2 separate regions of the Homo sapiens genome follow, and region 1 is linked to region 2. The links come from fine-mapping of genetic effects on plasma protein levels. A gene starts in region 2. The other region holds a variant in brackets. All regions are shown on one strand. Distances are from middle to middle. Region 1 holds the start of LOC124903282 (a long non-coding RNA gene). Region 2 holds the start of RNASE6 (ribonuclease A family member 6).

What was found. PIP is the posterior inclusion probability: the model's chance that the variant is causal. The UK Biobank Pharma Proteomics Project read protein levels with antibody pairs (Olink). The fine-mapping took linkage between variants from a reference panel, not from the people measured, so its PIPs are less certain.
Region 1: its variant is fine-mapped to the plasma level of the RNASE6 protein (UK Biobank, PIP above 0.99).

What each region holds. Positions count from the first base shown.
Region 1 is chr14:20,708,127-20,720,841 of GRCh38, reverse strand. It overlaps LOC124903282 (a long non-coding RNA gene), which reads left to right and starts at 5,119. Exons shown (of 2, transcript XR_007064061.1): 1 at 5,119-7,761; 2 at 9,124-11,049. It also overlaps the pseudogene RANBP20P. The variant G/A (reference allele first, on the strand shown) is at 5,372.
Region 2 is chr14:20,774,895-20,787,609 of GRCh38, reverse strand. It overlaps RNASE6 (ribonuclease A family member 6), which reads right to left and starts at 6,342. Exons shown (of 2, transcript NM_005615.5): 1 at 6,272-6,342; 2 at 5,143-5,915. The coding sequence starts at 5,910. The coding sequence ends at 5,458. The region is part of intron 1 of LOC107984671 (a long non-coding RNA gene); the gene reads left to right. RefSeq lists enhancers at 5,198-5,267, 12,072-12,675.

The DNA of each region.
Region 1 (12,715 bases), 67 kb after region 2:
ATCACACCTCTAATCAGCACCAAGTTCTCGAAGCAGCAAAGCCTACCGTCTACACCTTTTATCTAACTCTGTCTCTCCTTCTGTTCCTATACCCATTTATTAGAAAATCTAAATATGACACAGAGTTAGACCCATAAATCTTTCCGCTTTATAAAACTGTTATTTCATCTTCCTTTTTACTTGTAGCCCACATGCATTCAAATACAACTTTACTTTTTTGGTTATATAAGTTCCACATGCTCACTGTGAAAAACCAAAATATTGTTCAGATTTCCAGACTAAAAAGTTGTGATACCTTTGAAACATTTTCCTTCAGGCGGTACACACAGTTGGGCATTGGTTGTGCAGGCACACCTCGTTTTGTTGTGTTTCCCTTTATAGCACTTCGTAGATACTGTGTTTTTTACAAGTTGAAGGCTTATGGCAACCCTGCATTGAGCAAATCTGTCAGCGCCATTTTTTCAACAGCATTTAGTGCTTCCATGTGTCACATTTTGGTAATTATTAGAATATTTCAAACTTCTTCTATGACTATATCTGACAGTAATTTGTGGTTAGTGATCTTTGATGTTACTATTGTAATTATTTTGGGGTGCCACAAACTGAAGATGGCAAACTTGATTGATAAATGTGTGTGTTCTGACTGCTCCACTGATTGGCGGCTTCCCCACCTTCCTGTCTTTAGGACTCCCTATTCCCTGAGCCATTTAGTAACCCTACAATGACCTCTATGTGTTCAAGTGAAAGGAAGAGTCACATGTCTCTTACTTTAAAAATCTAGAAATGATTAAGCTTAGTGAGGAAGGCGTGTCAAAAGCTAGGATAGGCCAAATGCTGTTGAGCCAGTTAGTCAAGTTGCGAATGCAAAGGAAAAGTTCTTGAAGGAGATTAAAAGTTCTGCTCTAGTGAACACACAAGTGATAAGAAAGCAGAACAGCCTTATTGTTGTTGACACGGGGAAAATTTCAGTGGTTCGGATAGACCAAACCAGCCACAACATTCTCTTATGCCAAAGTCAAAACCAGATCAGGCCCTTCAATTCTCTGAAAGCTGAGAGAGGTGAGGAAGCTACAGAAGAAAAGTTGTAAGCCAACACAGGTTGGTTCGTGAGGTTTAAGGAAAGAAGCCATCTCCATAACATAAAAGTGCAGGATGAAGCAGCAAGTCCTGAGGAGAAGCTGCAGCAAGTTCTCCAGAAGCTCTAGATAAGATCATTGATGAAGGTGGCCACACTAAACAACAGATTTTCAGTGTAGATGAGACAGCTTTATAGTGGAAGAAGGTGCCATCTGGGACTCCCATAGCTAGAGAGGAGGAGTCAGTGCCTGGTTTCAGAGCTTCAGAGGGCAGGCCAACTCTCTTGTCAGGGGGCACCTGCCACTGGAGACTTCAGGTTGAAGCCAGTGCTCATGTATCATTTGAAAATCCTAGGGCCCTTAGGAATTATGCTGAATCTACTTTGCCTGTCTCTATAAATGGAACAACAAAGCCTGATTGACAGCACATCTGTTTACATCATGGTTTACTGAATATTTTAAGCTCATTATTGAGACCTGCTCAGAAAAAAAAGATTCCTTTCAAAATACTACTGCTGATTGGCAATGCACTTGGTTACCTAAGGCCTCTGATGGAGATGTTCAAAGATATTAATTTCCATAGTTTCCATGCCTGCTCACACAACATCCGTTCTGCAGTTCTGCAGCCCATGGATCAAGGAGTAATTTTGGCTTTCAAGTCTTATTACTTCAGAAATACATTTCATAAGACTATAGCGGTCATAGATAGTGGTTCCTCCAATGGATCTGGGCAAATAAATTGAAAATATTAATTCAAATAATGGAACTCATTTCACTGCACATATCATTAAGAAATTAGCCCAAGCACTAGACATAACGTGGGAATACCATACTCCTTGGCACCCACCTTCATCGGGAAGAGTAGAAAGAATAAATCAAACCGTGAAGAGTCACTTAACCAAATTAGTCTTAAAGACTCAGTTGCCATGGACTAAATGCCTTCCCATTGCCTTGCTAGGAATCTGAACCACCCCTCAAAAAGATGTTGGCCTATCCCCATATGAGATGCTATATGGGTTGCCCTATTTACACTCCACTGCTGACATTTCCACCTTCGAAACAAAAGATCAGTTTCTCAGACATTATATACTTGGTTTATCTTCCACTTTCTCTTCCCTTAGAACTAAAGGTCTTTTAGCACAGGCACCATCCCTGGAGTTCCCAGTACATCGAAATCAGCCCGGGGATCAAGTCCTCATCAAAAACTAGAAGGAGGAAAAGCTGGAACTGGCCTGGGAAGGACCTTATCTAGTGCTCCTAACTACTGAAAGCGCAGTCCAGACAGCAGAAAAAGGATGGACCTATCACACCCAAGTCAAGAAAGTGCCGCCCCCTCCAGAGTCGTGGGCCATAGTCCCAGGGGAAAACCCTACCAAACTAAAGCTAAGAAATTTTTTTTTTTTTTGAGACAGAGTCTTGCTCTGTTGCCCAGGCTGGAGTGCAGTGGTGCGATCTTCACTCACTGCAACCTCCACCTCCCGGGTTCGAGCAATTCTCCCGCCTCAGCCTTCCGAGTAGCTGGGATTACAGGCGTGTACCACTACGCCTGTATAATTTTTGTACTTTTAGTAGAGATGGGGTTTCACCATGTTGGCCAGGCTGGTCTTGAACTCCTGACCTCAAACGATCCACCTGTCTCGACCTCCCAAAGTGCTGGGATTACAGGCGTGAGCCAAGCTAAGAAAAATTTAACTCTCTTATTACTCCTTCTTCTTTCCTCATTCTATTGCTGACCACCTCATTATTAATGTAACAAAGTCAATTTCACCTCAAACTATTACATTTGATGCTTGCCTTGTTATACCTTGTGGAGACTTGTCAAGTTAAAGACAGCTCTCCAATTCAGAAAAGTACCTCTGTCCTTCCCGGCTCTCCTCAGACTGGACATTAGTGAATGGGGATCATTTAGTCTGGAGAGATTTCAATAAAGACCCCAGTATCAGCTGGGAGTCTTGCTCCTGCAAGACAGAGCTTTTATGCCACAGTTGGTCCAACATTCTGTGGACCACTAAAGAGCAAGGATGAGCTGCCCCAACCAGTGGTTGTAATTTCCTAAAGTCATATATTCACTTTACTAAAGGAACAGCTTCACCTAGCTGTCAGCTGAACCGTGCAATCCAATACAGGTTATTATCTCAAACCCTCAAAGCTCTTCCCCTTCTCTAAGCCGGTTCCCTTCTTTAAGCCGGTTTTATGGTGTGGGGGCTGAGGTTTCAGGAACAGACCCTATCAGATCCTTTGAAACACAATTCATTGATCCTCTGCCGCCTACACCTTCCCTTAAGCCTTCTTCCAGAAGCTCTCACAACAAAACTGTTGTTCTCCTCCATCTAATGACAAGACCAAGGTAGTTATTATAGAAGTTAAAGACCTAAAACAAACTTTGGCAATTGAGACAGAATATCAAGATGCTAATGCCTGGTTGGAGTGGATCAAACATTCCATCCACACTTTAAACAAAAGCATTTGTTATGCTTGTGCGCACGGCAGACCAGAAGCCCAGATTGTCCCCTTTCCATTAGGATAGTCCTTTAGTCTACTAGGCATGGGCTGTATGGTTACTTTTTTCCAGGATTACACAGCCTGGGGTAAAAAGTCGTGTCAAGCTCTCTCTGCTATATCCTGAGGTTCAATACCCTGCAGGTCAGCCCCCAAGGTCCACTCAGCTTCTGTCCCCTGACGCTAAGTTCACTTCATATCTCTCACTACAGGGAGGAAACTTAGCATTCCTTGGAGACCTAAAAAGATGCAGTGAGCTTAAGACTTTCCAAGAGCTTACCAATCAGTCAGCCCTTGTTCATCCCCAAGCATATGTATGGTGGTATTGTGGTGGACCTTTACTGGACTCTCTGCCAAGTAACTGGAGCAGCACTTGTGCTCTAGTTTAATTGGCTATCCCTTCCACCCTAGCATTTCATCAACCAGAGAGAGGAAAAATACAACATCATAAAACAAGGGAAGCTCCTTATGGGTCTTTCAACTCCCACATTTATTTAGATGCAATTGGAGTCCCATGAGGAGTACCAGATAAATTTAAAGATCAAGATTAAATAGCTGCAGGATTTGAGTCAAGATTAAATAGCTGCAGGATTTTGTGGGTGACAATTAATAAAAACATAGATTGGATAAATTACGTCTATTATAATTAGCAGTGGTTTATTAATTACACCAGGGATGCTGTCAAAGGGATAGCAGAACAATTGGGGCCCACTAGCCAGATGGCCTGGGAAAACAGAATGGCCCTAGATGTGATATTAGCTGAAAAAGGCAGTGTTGGTGTTATGATTAAAACTCAGGGCTGTACCTTTATCCCAAGCAACACTGCCCCCACTGGGAGCATAACAAGGGTCTTACAAGGACTTACTGCTTTATCCAATGAATTAGTTAAAGATTCTGGAGTCAATAACCCTTTCTCAGGATGGCTAGAAAGGTGGTTCAGTAGATGGAAAAGATCATAGCCTCGATTCTTACTTCTCTTGCAGCCGTAATAGGTGTACTCATTCTTGTTGGGTATTGTGTCATACCATGCGTCCGTGGGGCAGTGCAAAGAAACAGCACCTACTAAAACCTCCCTTAACTTTCCTCCACCTTATTCAGAAAAGCTTTCTTCTTTTAGAGGATCAAGTCAAGCAGCAAAGCCAAGACATGTTAAAAAGGTTTGAAGAGGAAGGCCTATGAAAATTGAAAGGGGGGAGATTGTAGGATACAGTAAATTCCTCTTCAGAGTTAGCCTGTTAACTTCCTTTAAAATTCAAGATGGTGGCTGGGCGTGGTGGCTCATGCCTGTAATCCCAGCACTTTGGGAGGCCAAGGCAGGCAGAACATGAGGTCAGGAGATTGAGACCATCCTGGCTAACATGGTGAAACCCTGTCTCTACTAAAAAATACAAAAAAATCAGCCGGGCGTGGTGGCGGGTGCCTGTAATCCCAGCTACTCAGGAGGCTGAGGCAGGAGAATGGCGTGAACCCAGGAGGCGGAGCTTGCAGTGAGCCTAGATTGCACCACTGCACTCCAGCCTGGGTGACAGAGCAAGACTCCATCTCAAAAAAAAAAAAAAATTCAAGAGGGAGAAAAAAATCATTTAAGTACAATGAGTTCTGAGTTCCTCTTCAAAGAACAAATACGTCAGTATGTTCAGCTTCCCTGTTCTTTGTTCTCCATTTTGAAGTTTAACTTCCTTGTTCTTTACACCTCCTTGCCTCTAGTTTCAGTAAACAACCCCCTCCTAGCCTCTATCACCTGTTCTGTCCTTAGGCATCCTTACTCTCCTGTTCTGTAACTGTCCTTCCCTGAT[G/A]AAACTACTCACCCCACCACTCCAGCTCATACACTCACTCTCTTTAAAATTTCCAACTGGAATTAGCTTAGACTGTGTGGTCCAACCCTAGCCAACAGGGGAAAGACACAGCAGTAGGGACTAGCTGCATTAGGAATAAGACGCCCTTCTCCTCCCTTGTCTGGTGTGCTCTCACCATTGCTCCATCTGAGAGATGCACCCTTCTATAGAAGTAAATTGCTTTGCTGAGAAAATTTTTGCCTGAGTGCTATTTTCACTCTGTGGCACCGAGCACTTACTTCCAACAGTTTGGTTACATTTTTTATCACCCAGCATGGGGCTATATGTCTCTACTGGTCTAGCGTGCCTGGTTTCCGATGGATGGAGCAATTGGCTGTGGCATCATGCCAGGGCTTACTCATTCATGCTACCAGGCAGAGCAACAACTTCTCATGAGGATTAGCTGCTCGTGGCTAGCTGACCTCCCAGCTGGGATTCTAGGGTTGTCCCAGCAGCTGCCAAGAACATCTTTTCCCTCCTTCCCCCTCTGTGGCATCAGCTGCCTGCAATGCTTTATTAGTATAAGGAAAATGATAGTTGAGGAAGTTGACAGGATTCAAGACTGGGTAAATCAAACCAGTTTGCATGCTAGAAATCCTCTGTCTCTGCCATTTGGGCTTTATGCCATTTGGACCTGACACAGGTCTTTTGCAGTATCAGTTAGCCTAAGATTTATTAACTTCCCAGTCTCCTTCTACAGGAATTGGTTCAGGAGTACTCTGTGTTGATCTGTGTGTTTGTGTTCTTTTGATCTCTCCCCTGAGAATGGGCAACTTGACTTCCATTCCATCTAAGTGGCCATTGGGCTGTATATTGGCTTATTGGAAAGCTTATAGCTATGAACTCATAACAAAAAAGATAATGATTTTTTTTCATTGTAACACTGTTTGGCCTATGTATGTGTTGGAATCTGAAAAATGGTGGCTACTGAACAGTGATTTACATTAGTACACCTTATTACAGTTGGCGTTATTTTGCCTAAGATCTGGGAAATGAAATGAGATTCCATGTGTTTAAGCATTTATTACATAACAAAGACTCAGCACATGAGGGGTCTATGTGAATGACGTAGAGAAAAGGGAAAAAGAGATTTCTCTTTCCAGATAGTAAGACCCAAAAGGAAGAGGATATTGATGATATGGGCCTCATAAATATCTTAAATTTCCCCTCCCATGTGGTACTGGGGGCACCAGCCCTCCCAGGATTACCAAATGTAGCCCAGGACCCGGAGAGGCCAAGGTGTCAGCTCCTCTCCCCAGGATGGGGAAGGAATAGAAATGGCTGCTCCACTTGCAGATTTTACTTGGGACCCCAACAATGGAGGAATGGCCCTGTCCAGTCATTATAAAAAGCATGTGTTGGCAGGGTTAAAGAGAAGAATGTAAAAGAGCTTAAATAAAGCCAGGGCAGTTCTCCCAAAGGCAGATGAGAACCCCTGTGAATTTCTGGAGTGCATTTACCAGGTTTACCACAAGTGTATGGACTATGATCCAGAAGCTCCTGAGAATATGAGAATGGTAAACGTGACTTTCATCCAATATTAAACGAAAACTGCAGAAACTGGAGGGGGTATTTGGAATAAACCTTTCCCAACTGCTGGACATTGCCTTCAGAGTATATAATGCCAGGAAGGCCAAAAAGCTAAAGCAAGCCATGATATACTTGGAATTAGTGGAAAGAATGTATATCCGAAAAGGAAAAACCAGGCACAGGGAGGTGGCCAGAACAAAACTCTAGGTAATGATCAGTCTGCCCCCTGCAAGGAGGAAGGTCATTGGAAATCTGAGTGCCCCAAATTAAAGAAAAGACAGGGAAACCAGAAGAAGGGAGACACAGTGACAGAGAAGAAACATACTGGCTGATGGTAAAGCAGGACTGTAGCTCAGATAGTGAAGGAGGCCCAAATCTTTTGGAGCAGGTTGTAATTTCCCCACAGGAACCTCAGGTACGATTGACAATGGGGAACAAATTGATTGACTTTTTAATCAATACTGGTGTGACTTATTCAGGTAGAAACACTAAAGAAACTGAAAGTACTAGGAAAACAGTGCCTGTGATGGTTGTCGCTGGCAAGATGCAGCAAACAGCCTTTCTCCAGACCCTGGAGAGTCTGGAGACTGCCGGACACAGAGATCTGGAGCTGAGACACAGTTTCCTCTATATGCTGGAATACCAAATTCCTTTGCTGGAGTGAGATTTGCTTTGTAAACTAAATTGCCATGTGACGTTTTTCTCCAGAAAAACAACAACTTCATCTGCAGGTCCTGCCAGAGCAAGCTTTGCAGCTGCAGATGCTGCTCACACACCCCGAGGAAGAAAAAGAATGCCTCCTGCCAGCAATCTGTGAGCAAGTAAGTAGTCATGAGGGCAGATGGGACCACAGGTAGTGCTGAAAATACACAGCCTGTGTGCACAGAAATAAATGAAGGGGCTAAGGTATTCCCCAAACACAGTGCCCTCTAAAAAGAGAGGCTTTAGAGGGGATACAACCTATATTACAGAAGTTTCTAAAAAATGGACAAATATGTCCTTACAGATCTCCATACAATGCCCCTATCCTGACTGTTAAAAACCCACACTCAAATGAATATTGATTTGTACAAGATTTGGGAACCATTAATGACATTGTTCAAGACATTCACCCAACTATGCCCATCCTTTACACCTTACTAACTGATAAACCAGGGCAGTATGGGTAGTTTTCGGTATTAGACTTAAAAGATACTTTTTTTTTTTTTTTTTTTTTTGCATCCTGATTGAAGAGAGGGACCAGATGCTGTTCACCTTTGAGTGGCAAGACCTGGAAACAAAAAACACCTTCCAATATTGTTAGGCTGTATTTTCTTAAGGTTTTAAAAACTCACCCACCATCTTTGGCAAAATATTGGCAAAGGGCTTCAGAGATTTTCAACTAGATGATGGGGTTCTGCTAAAATACTTGGATGACTTGTTAATCGCAAGCCAAGACTATGAGAGGTGCCTATCTAACACTATCTTAATCTTAAATTATTTGATATAATACGGACGTAACATATCACCTCAGAAAACTCAGATTTGTAAACAAGAAGTGACCTATCTTGGCTTCTGACTAAAAACAAGGAAAGCAGAGCTTGATGTCCAACCAGAAACAGGTGATAGCAGCAATAAAGGCCCCTGGGAATGGAAGACACTGTGGGGGGTTTTAGGTGTGGCAGGTTTCTGCTGAATCTGAATCCCTAATTTTGGACTCATAGTCAAACCTCTCTACAAGGCTCTAAAGGGATTAGATTCAGGAGCCCTAAACTGGATGGCTGAATGCCTTCAGGCATTTGATACCATCAAAAAAAAAAAAAAAAATAGTGTCAGCTCCAGCATTAGGACTGCCCAATTCTTGAAAGCTATTTAGACTCTATATCCATGAAAACCAGGGCACAGGACAGGAAATACTAATTCAACTACGTGGGAATTCCCCACAACCCATAGCCTACTTTCCCAAACAACTGGAGCAGATTACCAGAGGATGGCCACCTTGTCTTCAGGCCGTGGCAGCTACGTGTGATATCTTACAGGAAGCAGAAAAATTCACCCTAGGACAGCCCATTACTGCATTTGTGCCTTATCAAGTGTTAACCTTATTGTAACAAAAGGGAGGTTACTGGATGATAGCGGGGCATATGGGCAAATACCAAGCCAGCCTATTAGATAACAGAAATGTTTTCTCCAAACCACCACAGTCTTGAATCCTGCCACCTTGCTCCCAGCCACTGAGTCCAACTATGAACTGGAGCATAATTGTTTAGAAATTCTTGATGCAGTCTATTCCAGCAGACCAGATCTGTCAGATCATCTGATGGCCACTCCGGACTGGGAGCTATACACTGACTGAAGCAGTTTCACAGAAGGAGGACAACGCCAGGCCAGGTATGCTCCAGTGACCCTAGACAAAGTAGTAGAAGCCTATGTCCCCGCTGCTGGTACTTCAGCACAAAAAGCTGAATGGATTGCTCTCATCAGGGCCTTAAAACAGTCTCAAGAGAAATGGGTAAACATTTACACCTACTCCAAGTATGCCTTCTTGGTAGTGTATGCCCGTGGGGTCATTCAGAAAGAAAGGGGATTCTTAACCTCAAGAAATAAAGACATTAAACACCTGCTGGAAATTTTAGCTTTGTCAGAGGCAGTTGTTCTGCCAACTCAAGTTGCTATTATGCACTGCCAAGGCCACCAAAAGGATGACTCCCCAATAACCAAAGGGAATCAAGTGGCTGATAAAGCTGCAAAGCAGGCCACTCAAGAAACATATTTACTTGGGACCTTAATACTCCATTTAAACTTGTCAGAATTTAAACTCCACTACACTGAATGAAATGAAGAATGCACACATGAGTGGACATTGACCAACACAGACCCTTGTTCCTCATGGAAAGCTAACACTCATGGGATATTACTCTCTGAGGCCCTGGTATACCCAGTCCTGAAAGACCTGCATGAGGGGACACACTATGGCAGAGATGGACTGGCTCACCTGGTGTAGCCATATCTCAAAGGGCCACACCTTCAAAAGATCATTCAAAAGATTATACAAGCATGTTATCTATATACCCCAAATGATTCAAGAACTGCATGCAACTCTTCCCAGAGGAGGATACAATACAAAGGAATATGACCATTCGAGGACTGGCAGGTTGATTTCACCCAGATGCCAAAAACACTGGGATTTATAAGTACCTACTAGTGTTTGTAGACACATTTTCTGGAAAGGTTGAAGCTTACCCGAGCAAGAGATTGAAGCCTATCCGAACAAGTCTGAGAAAGCTGCAGAAGTAGCTAAGGCTCTGCTAAAAGAAATCATTCCTCGATTTGGACTTCCTTACTCCATACCAAGCAACAATAATCCTTCTTTAATTTCTGAGATCACACAAAGGATAAGCCAAGCATTACAGATCAAATGGAAATGACACTCTTGTTGGAGGCCACAATCAACTGGAAAGACTGAAAAGATGATCCACATGCTAAAAAACAAAAACAAAAACAAAAACAAAACAAAACAAACAAACAAAAAAACCAAAAAAAACCCCTGGCAAAACTCTATCGGGAAACAGATTTAAAATGGTAAAGGGTTTTACCTATTGCCCTGCTATGGATTGGGGTAGCACCCTGAAGTGGGCTTAAATTAAGCCTTTTTGAAATTGTGTGTGGGAGACCCTTCTGAAGTTCTTGGCCAGGGACCCCACCCTTGGACTTAATAAATTAATCAAGAATTAAACAATATGTACAACAACTAAGACATAAATCACTAACCCTGCACAAGTTTGTTCTTTTTGTTCTTTCCAGTTTTATGTGTCTTACAAAAAAGCCCCTTCACCCTTTTCATCCAAGGATAAAGTGCCGCTAAAATCTTGGTAAAAACAAGGACTGGACCAACAACAGCCAGCCAAAAAGTGGACAGGTCATTATGATGTTTTATTAACTACTCATTCATCTGTTAAGCTGGCTGGAGTCAAACCACGCATACATCACATTTCGGTAAAAATCGCCCCTCCCCAACCTGACACAGCAGACAATCAACCTGGTTGGACTTGTGAGCCAACTGGAGAACTGAAGCTACTGCTTAAGAAAAATCTTTTTGTACTATAGGATTAAATTTCTGTTATTCTTTATCATAATGAGTAAACTTTTTTGACATCTGCTAAAACTAGTCTATTTCTACAGTGGGCATAACATTATGCAGATAGTCTACACTAAGATGCTTGCTGGGTATGTGGATTGCTACCCATCTCTAGCACTTCTGGGCTACTTTAGTGAGTATCACCCCTGCAGGGGACTGATTAGATACATTTACAAACGTATATGAAAAACTGTTCATGGGAAAATCAGGACCTTGGTAACTTAAGGTAATATTTTTTAAAAATGGCCTGGCATTAATATAACGCTTCAGAATCCAGATCCTGGAAAACTCTTCATTATAACCGGACTATCCAAAGGACCTCTGAGTATGCAATCCCTCTCTTAAAGGAGTTTTCCTAGATGGCCCCCAAGATTTTGGCTACTAATAACCATTACACGGTAGGTGAGTTTTTATCAAATTTGGGACGATTACCTCTGGATGATCTCCACTATTAGTCACTTAACCCAAATTGCCACTTCATGTTGGGAACAAAGGAATCACTCTTAGAATCATTGGCCGAATGTTACTAAAAATGTGGATAGGATGCCTCTACATCAATATGAACATTCTTTAGTGCTATATTAGACAAACCTGTTTACCACTGATTGGACACAGACCCAAAATTTGGTGGCTGGTCCCCAGTGGAACTCAATAGTTATGTGAAACTAATCTTCGGCCATGTCTACCTGATGGATGGATAGGGCAGTGCACGTTAGGACCCCCATAGGTCCGGGGCTGATTAACAAAAACCACCAGGCAGCCTGCACACTTTCCAGATGTGTTACACCAATGGACCAGGCCGGTTTTCCCTTCCTACGACCATCTCCTGTCCCTTGTTTTCCCCCAAGCAGGCTTAGAAAGCATCATCTGGCATATTGAGGCACTTACAAATTATAGCAAGTGCTGAAAGACACATTTAAGGGCATCTCATTAGTAACCTCTGAAATGACTATGATGGGAAAAGTAGTCTTGCAAAACCACATGGCCCTTGATGTACTCACAGCTGCTGGGAGGGACCTTGACCCATAATTGAAACTAAATGTTTTGTGTATATCCTAGGTAATTTGCGAAACATCTCCTTAGCCCTTCAAGACGTGCACAGACAAATCAATGCTATGTCTGACCCCACAATGTTCCTAAACCAGTGGTTATCTTCATGGTTTGGATACGGACCTACTTGGTGGAAAAAACTGCTAGTAGTTCCAGCTATGATTATAGGAATAGGTATATTCTCTATGGGTTATACTCTTGTTGCACCATATGTGTGATATTGCAAGATTGTGTTTTCCTTAATTGGAAAGGCTCCTAACTCCCAGGTCAATGATGCTGTAAAAAATCACTTCCATAAGTCAAGGAATGCATGAATACTTCCAACTCCAGGTAAATAAATTCCATTCTTCAGCTCCCTAGTGATGCCCTCATTCAGCAGGAAGTAGCTAGAAAGAAATTGACACCTGATCTCCCATAGAAATGAAACAGGAATTGGCAGTGGGGAGTTTGTAGCTGGAATAATCAGCCTGCTTCAATAATGAATAGCCTCACCCTTTGATTTATTCAGTATCTAGCCGTATCCTTGCTTAAGAAACCCAGGGGCTAATCTTGAAATAAACCGGGCATGAATTTGAGATTGTGGAATCCTACATTCTCAGAAAAATCAC
Region 2 (12,715 bases):
AAGTGCTGGGATTACAGGCGTGAGCCACCGCGCCCGGCTGAGAAGAGTTAAGAAGAATTACCAGAAAGGAATAAAATGGACCCCAATGTTTTTATATTTTATTTATTTTAAAATTTTAAGCAAATGAAACACTTAATATTTATTTCTTTTGCATGCCACTAGTATATTGTATTTATCTGGATTGTTTAATTTTTGAAAAGTAAATAATCCCATTAAAAATGAAGTGAACTCATGAGAGAGAGCAAGGGAAAAACTTGACGAAATCCATCAAGTATGAAGAGCCCCCAAAGACTTCCCATCCCCACGAGCTTCTGCTTCTCCTCCTTGCGAAGCTCTTTGGCTCTGCTATTGCCACCCCTACACCTGGGTTTTTGTGGGGTTTTTTGCAATCTTGACTCAAATGTGGACAAACACTTTCTTGTTTTTATTAGCACTGTCTAGATAAAATGGCATTTTCAAAAATAACTTTACAAATTAAAAAGATGACTTGAAGAAATATTCACAGTATCAAAAGAATCAATAAAATCAGTTTTAGATTGTATAATTTCTTTTCAGACGAAATTAATTAAAATATCCACCTAACTCACTAAGTACAGCTGTAAAAGTGGTTTAATGTTTTTACTGGTCCCACATCCTCCTGTCTTAAAATAAACTTTCCTCTATTCCTCAAGAGTACATTGTTATTCAATTTCTGTTTCCACACTGTGTGGTTAAAGAAAAAGTATTGAATTGTCTATCTAGCCCCTTTTCTCTGGGAACTATGACATCTCTAACCAGGGCTAACTCACCTGGAACCAGTCCTGGCCCCAAGACAACACTACAGACATGAGTCCTGAAGCTCCTTAGGGCTTCCTGTGCTGGAAGGAAGGGTTGAGGGTGGGAGAAAGCCCCAAAGGAGAGAAAGAGAATAGGATCCCATGCGGATCTCAGGCCAGGCACTACCAGCCTGGGCTGACTGCAGCCACTGATGAGAGACTTAGAAAATGTTGAGAAGGGTATTCCAAGATGCAACGGGGTGCCTGAGGAACAGGCGAGGCCAGAGACCCCATTTGGCCAGCCTTAAGGGCAGTTCTCTCTAAGCCTCTCTTCTGCATGGTCCACAAGAAAGGCTCCTGGAAGCTATTTTTTGCAATGTGATTCTGTCCGATGGTCATGTCTGATCTATGGATGGGATCAGTCAGAATCCCTTCAAAAATAAATAATATTTCAGAGAAAATTAGAAAGTGAGATGGAAAGGGATGACTGTCTACTTACTGTGTGAAAAAGAAAAGCAGAGGAAATGAGTACATTGCAGAAAAAGACTGAAACAGGGCACAGAAAGGAATATTAAGAATTCATTACGGTCGGGCGCGGTGGCTCACTCCTGGAATCCCAGCACTTTGGAAGGTCGAGGCGGGCGGATCACGAGGTCAGGAGATCGAGACGATCCTGGCCAACATGGTGAAACCCGGTCCCTACTAAAAATACAAAAAATTAGCCGGGCGTGGTGGCGGGCGCCTGTAGTCCCAGCTACTGGGGAGGCTGAGGCAGGAGAATGGCGGGAACCCGGGAGGCGGAGCTTGCAGTGAGCCCAGATCGCGCCACTGCACTCCAGCCTGGGCGACAGAGCGAGACTCCGTCTCAAAAAAAAAAAAAAAAAAAAAAAAAAAAAAAAAAATCATTACTTTCCTGAGGCCCCAGTTCAAAATTCTCAGCCTGCCAGGTGTCGTCCTTCCTACTGAATTCCAGCCACCTGCCTCAGCCACAGCCAAAGGACAAGATCCATTGAATAGTCTAGAAGACCAGGAATCAACACACTTTGTTCTATAAAGGACCAGACAGTAAATATTTCACTTTTGTGGAACACATAGGGTCTGTGTCACTTCCTCTCCTTCTTCTTCCTCTTCTTCCCCTTCCTTCCCCTCCCTCACGTCTCTACTCCTTCCTTCTTCCTGTTCTTCCCCCCCTCCTCTTCCTCCTCCTTTTTCTTCTCCCCCTAAAAAAGTAAAAATCGGCCAAGCACGGTGGCTCACGCCTGTAATCCCAGCACTTTGGGAGGCCGAGGCGGGTGGATCACGAAGTCAGGAGATCAAGACCACGGTGAAACCCCGTCTCTACTAAAAATACAGAAAATTAGCCGGGCGTGGTGGCGGGCGCCTGTAGTCCCAGATACTCGGGAGGCTGAGGCAGGAGAATGGCGTGAACCCGGCAGGCAGAGCTTGCAGTGAACTGAGATCGCGCCACTGCACTCCAACCTGGGCGACAGAATGAGACTCCGTCTCAAAAAACAAACAAACAAACAAACAAACAAACAAACAAATTAGCTGGGCGTGGTGGCGGGTAATCCCAGCTACTCAGGCGGCTGAGGCAGGAGAATCGCTTGAATCCAGGAGGTGGAGGTTGCAGTGAGCCGAGATCCAGCCATTGCACTCCAGCCTGGGCGGCAGAGCCAAACTCCATCTCAAAAAAAAAAATAAAAGTAAAAACCACACTACTCCAGGCAGTATAAAATAGGCGCGGCAGGCCAGAGGTCTGCAGATGTAGTTTGCTTACCCCTGCATCAACAGTTGTTACCAATATTTGCTGCCCATTACAATTACATGGGGATCTTTAACAAACATCCATTAGAGCCCAGGTCTCACCCCCAGATATTCATTTAATTGTTCATTAAATGTTCATAAAATTTATTTAGTAGATCCCGTCATTGGTATTTTTCTAAAAGCTCCCAGGTGAATCTAATATGAAGCCAGAGTTGAGAGCTGCTAGAACATCTGCTGAATTCACTTCTAAGCTTTGCCTGCTTTGGGATCATTCTGTATATTCTAGGGATATATCTAAGTGAACTTCTTAGCAATTATGTATTGAACTTCTGCAATACATAACTGCATGTAGAAAAGAAAATAAATCTATGAGAGATTCCATCCCAGTCTATTCCACTTGTTTAGAACTAATACCTTCTAAAAGTTTGGGCATAATAGATTGTTGAAAAGTTACCCTCATTGTTGCCTTTTCCTTGATCAGCAACAAAAAGTGACTCTAATTGTTGTTGGGGATAGGTTTGTCATGGGAGGGTGGGGAAGATTAGATATTGTTGCTGCAAATCTCTTCAAAAGATGGCACTCATTATATTTTTGTTTTTAACCATTTGTTACAAAATATTTGCAGTATTTTAGACCTCACAATTTATTTCACTAATTTTAAGTAACATTTCATGTTCCCTAATGTTTCTGACAGTTGAAAAATTTTTGCAGCACAGATGTATTCAATCCATGAGATACCTTTACTATATAAATAACAATAGCATGAGCAATTGAGTTGTTTGGTTTTACTAGATTACCTTTAAGAATCTCTGGCAATTTCCAGGTAATGTTCATATAAATCCATTCAACCCCTTTCCTTTCAGATGCTGCTACTTTCGTATACTTGTTCATACCAAACGTGAGCACAGATTCTCCCTGCCATTCCACCACACTTTACATGAAGACTCTGAGACAATAAAATGTAAATGCAACATGGCTTAAAGCTGAATACAACTGAAAGCTGCTTTGAGTTAGAGCACTCAAGTCCCACTGTAGGATTCCCTCTATAAGGTACCCACCTTCTTAGGTGCCATATTGCCCTGACCTGCTAATCTCTTCCCAATGGGAGGGCCCTTGATCAGTCATCACCCTGGAATCCAGGCTCCTGAAACCTCATATTCCATTCTTTGTTCCTAAGATATGACATAAATGTGTAGCGTAAAGGAAGGTGAGCTGAGTTAGCATATCTATTAAACTAATAGTCTGGCTTGGAAAGAATCATTTGCAGCACAGGTAATGAAGACACTACAATATGTAGCCTTTTCAAAAAAACTTCATTGTCTTTGGCTGCTACTTGAAGACTCATCACTGTACAAAGCACTTGGGATTTACACTGGCCCACTAGCCCAATGACTCTAGAGGTTGACAAGGAAACTGAAGTTCCTTCTGTGAAATGGCTTAGTTCAGGTTCTGTTCCAAAACCCCAATACTTCTGTGGTATTTCAGTATTTACATAGGACTAGAATGTTTTTAGTTTCCTAGTGCTTTTTTCTCTTTCTTTCTTTCCTTTTTTTTTTTTTTTTTTTGAGACGGGAGTTTCGCTCTGTCACCCAGGCTGGAGTGCAGTGGTGCAATCTCGGCTCACTACAGCCTCTGCCTCCCAGGTTCAAGCGATTCTCTTGCCTCAGGCTCCTGATTAGCTGGGATTACAGGCTCCTGCCATCATGTCTGGCTAATTTTTTGTATTTTTAGTAGAGATGGGGTTTCACCACATTGGCCAGGCTGGTCTCAAACTCTTGGCCTCAAGTCGTCTGCCTGCCTCGGCCTCCCAAAGTGCTGGGATTACTGGTGTGAGCCACTGCATTGGGTCTCCTGGTGCTTTTCTCTTTTTCTTTTTTTGTTTTTGAGATGGGAGTCTCACTCTGTTGCCCAGGCTGGAGTGCAGTGACACAATATTTGCTCACTGCAACTTCTACCTCCTGGGTTCAAGCGATTCTCCTGCCTCAGCCTCCCGAGTAGCTGGGATTACAGGCACTGCCACCACGCCCAGCTACTTTTTTTGTATCTTTAGTAGAGATAGCGTTTCACCATGTTGGCCAGGCTGGTCTTGAACTCCTGACCTCAGACGATCCACCTGCCTCAGCCTCCTAAAGTGCTGGGATTACAGGCGTGAGCCACCACGACAAGCCTAGTGCTTTTTTCTTGATCTATGCTTTCTATTTATCCATTTCAATAAATAATGGAGGATTGACCCTAAGGTTACTACAATGGATTATTATCCCTATTACTACTACTATCACCTTATATTTAAAACATTATCTGATTAAAAACGGAAACAAATAGAAAAGACATAGGATCCTTCAGTTGCCAGTGACAGAATCTATGTGTGAGTTATCATCAACTGTCTTTGAGGTATCAGTACTACCTCCAATTAAGCATAGACAATGGTTTCCAGGGGAATATATAAAGTCATGAGCAGAGTTTGAAGAAATGCTCCAAAGTCCCAAACGCTGTCCTTTCTTGTGGGCAAGGAAGTGGGGCCCCAGGGAGGCCTCAAAAGTTTTCTAGGGACTTAAAGTCAAAACAGTGTTCCTCTGAGTACCGGTCAACAATGCTTTGAAAGCGGATCTCAAACACACACTCATTAGAATGCAGCAGGAAGTGGTTTTATTGCTGTGAACACAGGGCAATAAAGCTTGGCAAAAGTTGCAGGGTTAGAAATCTGAATCTTTCTTTGCTGTCTTCCCTATTCCCTTCTCTCGAAAAGTACAGAACTACAAAGCAGAAAATAATCTTATTTCTTTTTGTCTCAACTCTGGTCTGGCATCCTAGGCACTCGAATTCTCCAAACACCTTTCTTCTTTCTTCTACGGGAACAAGAAAATCAACAAAAGAAAAGAAAACATGGATGCAATTGTAACAGAAGCTATGTCAAATGAAAGGAAATGCAGTGGATGCCTTAGAGAATACTATCTAAGTGTACAGGAACCAACTTGTAGGGGGGATCGCTCTTCTGAGGGGGGTCACAGGCAACAATGAAGAATTTGTACTGGGCAGCAGCACTATAGCGGCACTGGGGATACTTTCCTGAAGTGAGTCTGCAGTCAGTCATGTTGACAGGCTTTGAGCTCTGGTGGCAGTTGTGCCGACGATTTTTGCAGACAATGCTGAGCAAATCACAGACAGCAGCCACATTCTGGAAAGAGTCATGCAGAAAGGTATTTTGATGCTTACAGTGCTGGGTATAATTGTTGATGCCACTCATTGCCCTGTTGCATTGGAGAGGACTTGGCTGTATATGCTGAATTTCAAACCAGTGAGCCTTGGTGAGACGCTTAGGCCAAGCATGAAGTGGACACACTGGTCCCCATAGAACCAGCAGCAGTAAAAGAAGAGGAAAGCATAGCACCATCTTTTCTGTGTAGAAAGAGAGAAGATAGTTATAGTAGGAGAAGCAATAAGAGCAAAATTTTTAATCATAACTATTTAGATTTTTATTTTGCCTTTTAAGATTTTACAGCTCCCTTTAAAATCTTCTTTCTCACATAGTCTCACAATTCTATGAAGAACCTGAAGCCCAGGAAACAGAAATATGACCTCTCCTTTGATTGGCATATCCCATTTTCTTTCACAAGTACTCATGCATTTGATGGCTGTCATATCAGAAAGTTTCTTCCCTCTTCCCTCCTGAAATATTTACCCTCTATCTGACCACTACCTCCCAGCCGTCTTTACTGCTCTACTCGCTCCAGCCCTGAGGCTTTCTTTCTTACCTGGTCTCAGTGTTGGGGCTCCTGCTGAGAACAGAGGCTGTGATTAGTCCAAAGCTCAGAAGCTGTTGTCTGCCTTTCTTCTCTAACCCTTCGAGCCCTGTGTGTATAGGGAAGGGGAAGAAATATTCTGAGCTTTCAGAAGGAGAATCCTAGGGTTTGGCAGATTAACTTCTTGTGCAGAGTCTGGATTAAACTCTTAGACTTTCACACCTGTTCTTTAAAACAGTATCATTATCACATGTATACAGGAAGGCTAAACCAACTTAAAGAAACAACATGACTGAAAACTCACAGTTTTGAGGAACTGATCACTTCCTGATATGGAATGAGTGCTTCCTGCCTCATCTGAGGCTTCAGTGTTTTTTTTTGAAGCTTTATGATTCCTGTTTCTTAAGAGAAAATATGTCACATAAATATGATATAATGCCTGCCACATACTTGGTAATGTTGTAAGTTCCTACAACAGAAGTGAATACATTATTCATTTATGCATATACTTATTGGGCCAGGTACTAGGCTACACAAATTCAGGAGCTCATGAGTTTTTTTTTTTTTTTTTTTTGAGACGGAGTCTTGCTCTGTCGCCCAGGCTGGAGTGCAGTGGTGCGATCTTTGCTCACTGCAAGCTCCACCTCCTGGGTTCATGCCATTCTCCTGCCTCAGCCTCCCGAGTAGCTGGGACTACAGGTGCCTGCCATCACGCCCAGCTAATTTTTTTGTATTTTTAGTAGAGACGGGGTTTCACTGTGTTAGCCAGGATGGTCTCTATCTCCTGACCTCGTGATCTGCCAGGAGCTCATGATTTAATGAAAGAGATTAGAGACAGGCAGGTAAGTATATAGACAAGTAGATTATATTAATATAAATAGCACTTACAGTGTGATGGAGGACACTGCAGGAGGCTACGGGAAGATAGTAGAGGGGAAGGATTGTTGGAGGGCACAACACCTGAACTGAATTTTGAGGAATAATTAGAAGTTAGGTGAAGAGAGTGTTAAGCGCCTCCCAAAGACAGAATTGTGTATGAAAAGACCTGTAAGCCTGAAGAAGAAGGCCGAATTTAGGATATTTGCCTCTTGAATCTGTTCTTACCTTTTCACTGGTACTGCAACACCCTTATTCAGAAACTCATTGTCTTATGGAGGGCTCACATAAAAGCCTCCCACATGGACTCCTTGCCTTGTTTTTTTCTCCTTCCAATCCATTCTACATATTACTTCCAGATTAGTCTTTTTTTGAACAAGATATAATAGTACAACACTCTTGCCCCATGCTTTTATGGCTCCAAATGTCTGCAGAATAAACATAATGTCTGTTTATAGCAAGGTTGCAGGATACAAGGTTAATATACAAAAGTCAGTTGCTTTCTTATATACCAGCAATGAACAATTGCAATTTGATATTTAAAACACAATACCATTTATATTGCACCAAAGAAAGTGAAATACTTAGGTGTAAATCTAATACATTATGTAAAAATTGGTATGAGGAAAAATTTAAAACTCTAATGAAAGAAATTGAGGAAGCACAGATATTCCATGTACATGAGTAGGAATACTCAATATGTTAAGATGTCATTTCCTCTCAACTTGATCTATAGATTCAGCACAATCTCAATCAATATCCCAGCACATTATTTTGTGGATAGTGACAAACTGACTCTGAAGTTTATATAAAAGTAAAAGATTCAGGTTGGACACGGTGGCTCACGCCTGTAATCCCAGCACTTTGGGAGGCCGAGGCAGGCTGATCACGAGGTCAAGAGATCAAGACCATCCTGGCTAACACAGTGAAACCCCGTTTCTACTAAAAATACAAAAAATTAGCCAGGCCTGGTGGCGGGCGCCTATAGTACCAGCTACTTGGGAGGCTGAGGCACGAGAATCGCTTGAACCCGGGAGGTGGAGCTTGCAGTGAGCCGAGATCGCACCACTGCACTCCAGCCTGGGTGACAGAGCGAGACTCTGTCTCAAAAAAAAAAAAGATTCAGAATAGTCAACACAATGCAGAAAAAGAAGAACAAAGTCAGAAAACTGACGTGACCCAACTTCAAAACTTACTATAAAGCTACAGCAATTAAGACAGTGTGTTATTGGTGAAAAATAGACAAATAGGTCAATGGAACCAAGTAGAAAGCCCAGAGGTAGACCCACACAAATACAGTGAACTAATCTGTGACAAAGGATCAATTTTCAATTGAGAAAAGTTAGTCTTTTCAACAAATGGTAGTAGAACTGAATGTACACATGCAAAAAATAAATCTTTTCATAGGTTAGACTTCATACATTTTCATAGACCTGTACTTTATATCTTTCACAATTTTTTTTTGAGATGGAGTTTCGCTTTTGTTGCCCAGGCTGGAGTGCAATGGCATGATCTTAGCTCACCACAACCTCTGCCGCTCAGGTTCAAGTGATTCTCCTGCCTCAGCCTCCGGAGTAGTTGGGATTACAGGCATGCACCACTACACCCAGCTAATTTTGTATTTTTAGTAGAGACAGGGTTTCACCATGTTGGTGAGGCTGGCCTCGAACTCCTGACCTCAGGTGATCCGCCCACCTCGGCCTCCCAAAGTGCTGGGATTACAGGCGTGAGCCACCGCGCCTGGCACAAATGTTAATTCAAAATGGACCATAGACCTAATGCAAAATACAAAACTACAAAAATTCTAGAAAATAACATAGAAGAAAATCTAGGCAGCCTTGAGTTTGGCAATGATTTTTTAGATACAATACCAAAAGCACAATCCATGAAAGAAAAATATTGATAAGTGGAACTTCATTAAAATTGAAAACTTCTGCTCTGCAACAGATACTATTAAGAGAATAAAAAGATAAGCCAGAGACTGAGAGAAGATATTTGCAAAAGATATATCTGATAAAAGAACATTATCCAAAATATACAAAGAACTCAAAAAACCTCAACCATAAGAAAACCAACAACCTAGTTGAAAAATGGGCAAAACATCTGAATGGTATGGGGCAAAGACAATTTTTCCTCTCCCTCTGAAGGTTCAAAACTTCTGAAATGAACTGACAATAGACAGATTAACAGGAGAAAAAGGCATACAAATTTATTACTGTGCATAATCATGGGAACCATACAAATTATGAGACTCAAAGAAAGACTAAATAGTTGAAATTCATGTATTCTCTTCATAGGGGAGAGGAACATGGGGAAAATGTAGGCAATTTTGAGGAGTTTTAAATATTTTTTAGGGAACTGGCCCCAAATAGCAGACAATAGTTTGTAAATGAGTCTCTTTGGAAGCTGAATGGAAGGGTGACGAGTTATGGGAAGGTGAAGGGTGGAACTGCACTATGAACAAAGGTTGCCTTATTATACAGATAAAGTCTCTTAGGTACTCTTTTGGAGCTGCTCTTGGAAGAATAGATGAAAGGTCTATCTGAGTGTGGTGTGAAGAGACTTCTAGTCTCTTCTTTTTTTCAGGTGGCTAATATTTCCTGGTTATCTGATGAGATTTTTAGAAAGGGGGGTCTTAAGACAATTGCATTTCTTGGAAGAAGTTTTCCTTATCCAGACAAGGGAACTTCCAGAGAGAGCTCCTCTCTGCATTTGAGAGCTGGGGGAGGAATGAGAGAAGATTAGAACATCTTTGGTCCTGAGGCAGCTTCTAAGAAGTTTTGGTTTCTTTAATTCTTTAATTCTAGTTAAATTTAATTCTTTAATTTAATTTCTTTAATTCAAAAGTGCTCAGAATGCCATGCATCATAGTTTGTAGTATGATTCTCTGTACCCCAACACTTCACCAAACAAGATATACAGATGGCAGATGAGCAATGAAAAGATGTTCAGCATCACATTGTTTGGAGAAAAACTTTTCCTCTATCATTTTAGGTTTTAAAGGTGGTGGTAAAGGAGCTTGTGAATTAGAAAAAGATTAATAGGAGAAAATTCAAAGTTTATTTACACATGCACACAGGAGTATTACATAATGCGTAACTTGCTGAATAGCCAGAGGTAAAGTTATATATCAACTTTAAAAAAAGTGTTTTTGGCCAAGTGCAGTGGCTCATGCCTGTAATCCTAACATTCTGGGAGACTGAGGCAGGAGGATCACTTGAGGCATGGAGTTTGAAACCAACAGCATAGCAAGACCCCCATCTCTATTTTTTAAAAAAAGATTTGGCCGGGCATGGTGGCTCACACCTGTAATCCCAGCACTTTGGGAGGCCAATGTGGGCAGATCACCTGAGGTCAGGAGTTTGAGACCATCCTGGCCAACATGGTAAAACCCCGTCTCTACTAAAAATACAAAATTTAGTCAGGCATGGTGGTGGGCACCTGTAATCCCAGCTACTCGGGAGGCCGAGGCAGGAGAATCTCTTGAACCTGGCAGGCGGAGGTTGCAGTGAGACAAGGTTGCGCCACTGCACTCCAGCCTGGGCAACAAGAGTGAAAGTCTGTCTCAAAAATAAAATAAAATAAAAAATAAAAGATTTTTGTTGGGGCTTCAAAAGGAAAATATGGAAGGTTCTAGTAAGCTTTCTGATGCTAATAGAAATGGGTAGATTGATTTCTTCCTGGCTGGAAGTTTCCCTGTATGGGGGTTTATGGAAGCTAATTTACACATCCCAGTGCTAAGGGGCTGTCTCGTTTCAAACAGGAAAATACCTTTGAAGGGGATCAATGGCAGCTGAATTTTCAAGAGGCTCTGGTTAAGTTTAAATAGTGTTTCTTTCTGCAGCTTCTGTCTGTTCAGACATTTTCAGTTTAAAATAATTTTCATGCCACTATCATCATAACAGATTTGTTACTTGATGCACAACAAATGGATATATTAAGAAAACAGGGATTGAAAAAGAGAGAGTTTAATTTTCATAGGGCAGCCAAATGAGTAGATGGGAGGTAACCTACAATTTGGTTTTGGGTTTGGGGATAGGGTTTTTAAGGAGTCTGGACAAGGGCCAAAATGTGAGCATTTCTGATTCATCAAGAAGTGAGAGGTGAAGTCATGGGACAGGGACATGAAGAAACTCAGCATTCATGTGCCAAGCCAGTTCCTTGGTAGGGGTCTTTAGACTGGTTAGCATTAGCTGTTGCACTGGAATTCAGGATCAGAAAAACACCTTAAGCAATTCTTAAGCAAAAAGATTTCATGATTCTAGTATTGGAGATTCTACCTATAGGAACAATCGGGGAGTAGGTGGTCAGCATGCTACTTGGGAAATTAGAAGCTACAGGGAAGTGGGTTGAAGTGTACCAGCATGCTATGATTAATGTGCAATTCTGCCTAGAGCCTGGCTTGCAACACTCCATAACTCTGCAAGGGCAGTTTTGCCATATTGGTGGGCTGTGAATCCCTTCAATCTGTCATTAGAAAATTGCAAATTAAAACAATGGGATAATACTACACACCTACATGAATGACTAAAATGCAGTGAAAACTGACATCATCAAAGCCAGTAAGGATGCAGAGCAGCAAAAATGCTAATTGACAGGACTTTCAACCTGGAGGCATATTTTGGGGTGACATATTCTTGTTTCCTATGAGACTTCAGTTAGGCTAGCTTGGATCTCATAACCATCGCTTGGCTCAGTAGAGGGGACTGCAGACCTTAGTGGACAGCCTCACCAATACTACACACAAAAGAGGAAGGGTAGATACCTAAGGAGAGTCAATATGCAGCTATCCAAATAAGGGGTGGACCACCGGGAAAGCCAGAGAAACAACACAAAGCTATTACTAATTGCCCTTAAATCTACTTTCCTCCTATACTATTTTGAACAACCATCTGCTAACCCTTTAATAAAAGCAAGTTTTAAAGAGTTACTTAAATGAGGTATTTGTGAGAATCTACTATAGGAGACCAGAATATGCCACCCCAAAATATGCTTCTTTATTATGAATATTATTTTGAACTGCTTATTTTGAGAAGCAGTATACACAAGACAAACTCTGAAAATAGAGTGCACGTTGCTGTTTTGTAAGGGACATTTGCGTTTATAAGGGAAATCTTCATTTGTAAGGATGTCTCCCTTTCTTCACCAGAAAGAGAAAGGTGACTCTAAATCAAAAGAAACCCTTATCAGCGGAGAAGGTACTGACTTAAATCTGCATGAGAAAGCTTTCCCTTGTTTACTGTACTTTTCCTGGTCATCCCCCTGTAAGTTGCTCCCCGACATGCTTCTTCCTTTGCTTTAGCGGAAGGCATTTAAGCCCAAGTTCTAGCCACCTCTTTGAGTTGCTTTCTGAATTTCTCTCATGTATGCATGAGATGCACATGTTACTAAACTTCTATTTTTCTCTTGTTAATCTGACTTTTGTTTCGGTGGCCCCAGCCAAGAACCAAAGGGGTAGAAGGAAAATTTTTTCCTTCCCTACATACATTTTGAAGAGCGTTTGTCAACTGAGAAAAACAAACAGTATTGTTTCTTCTCATATGTATATTGATCCTACATGCAGAGCTACTGGTTTAATAC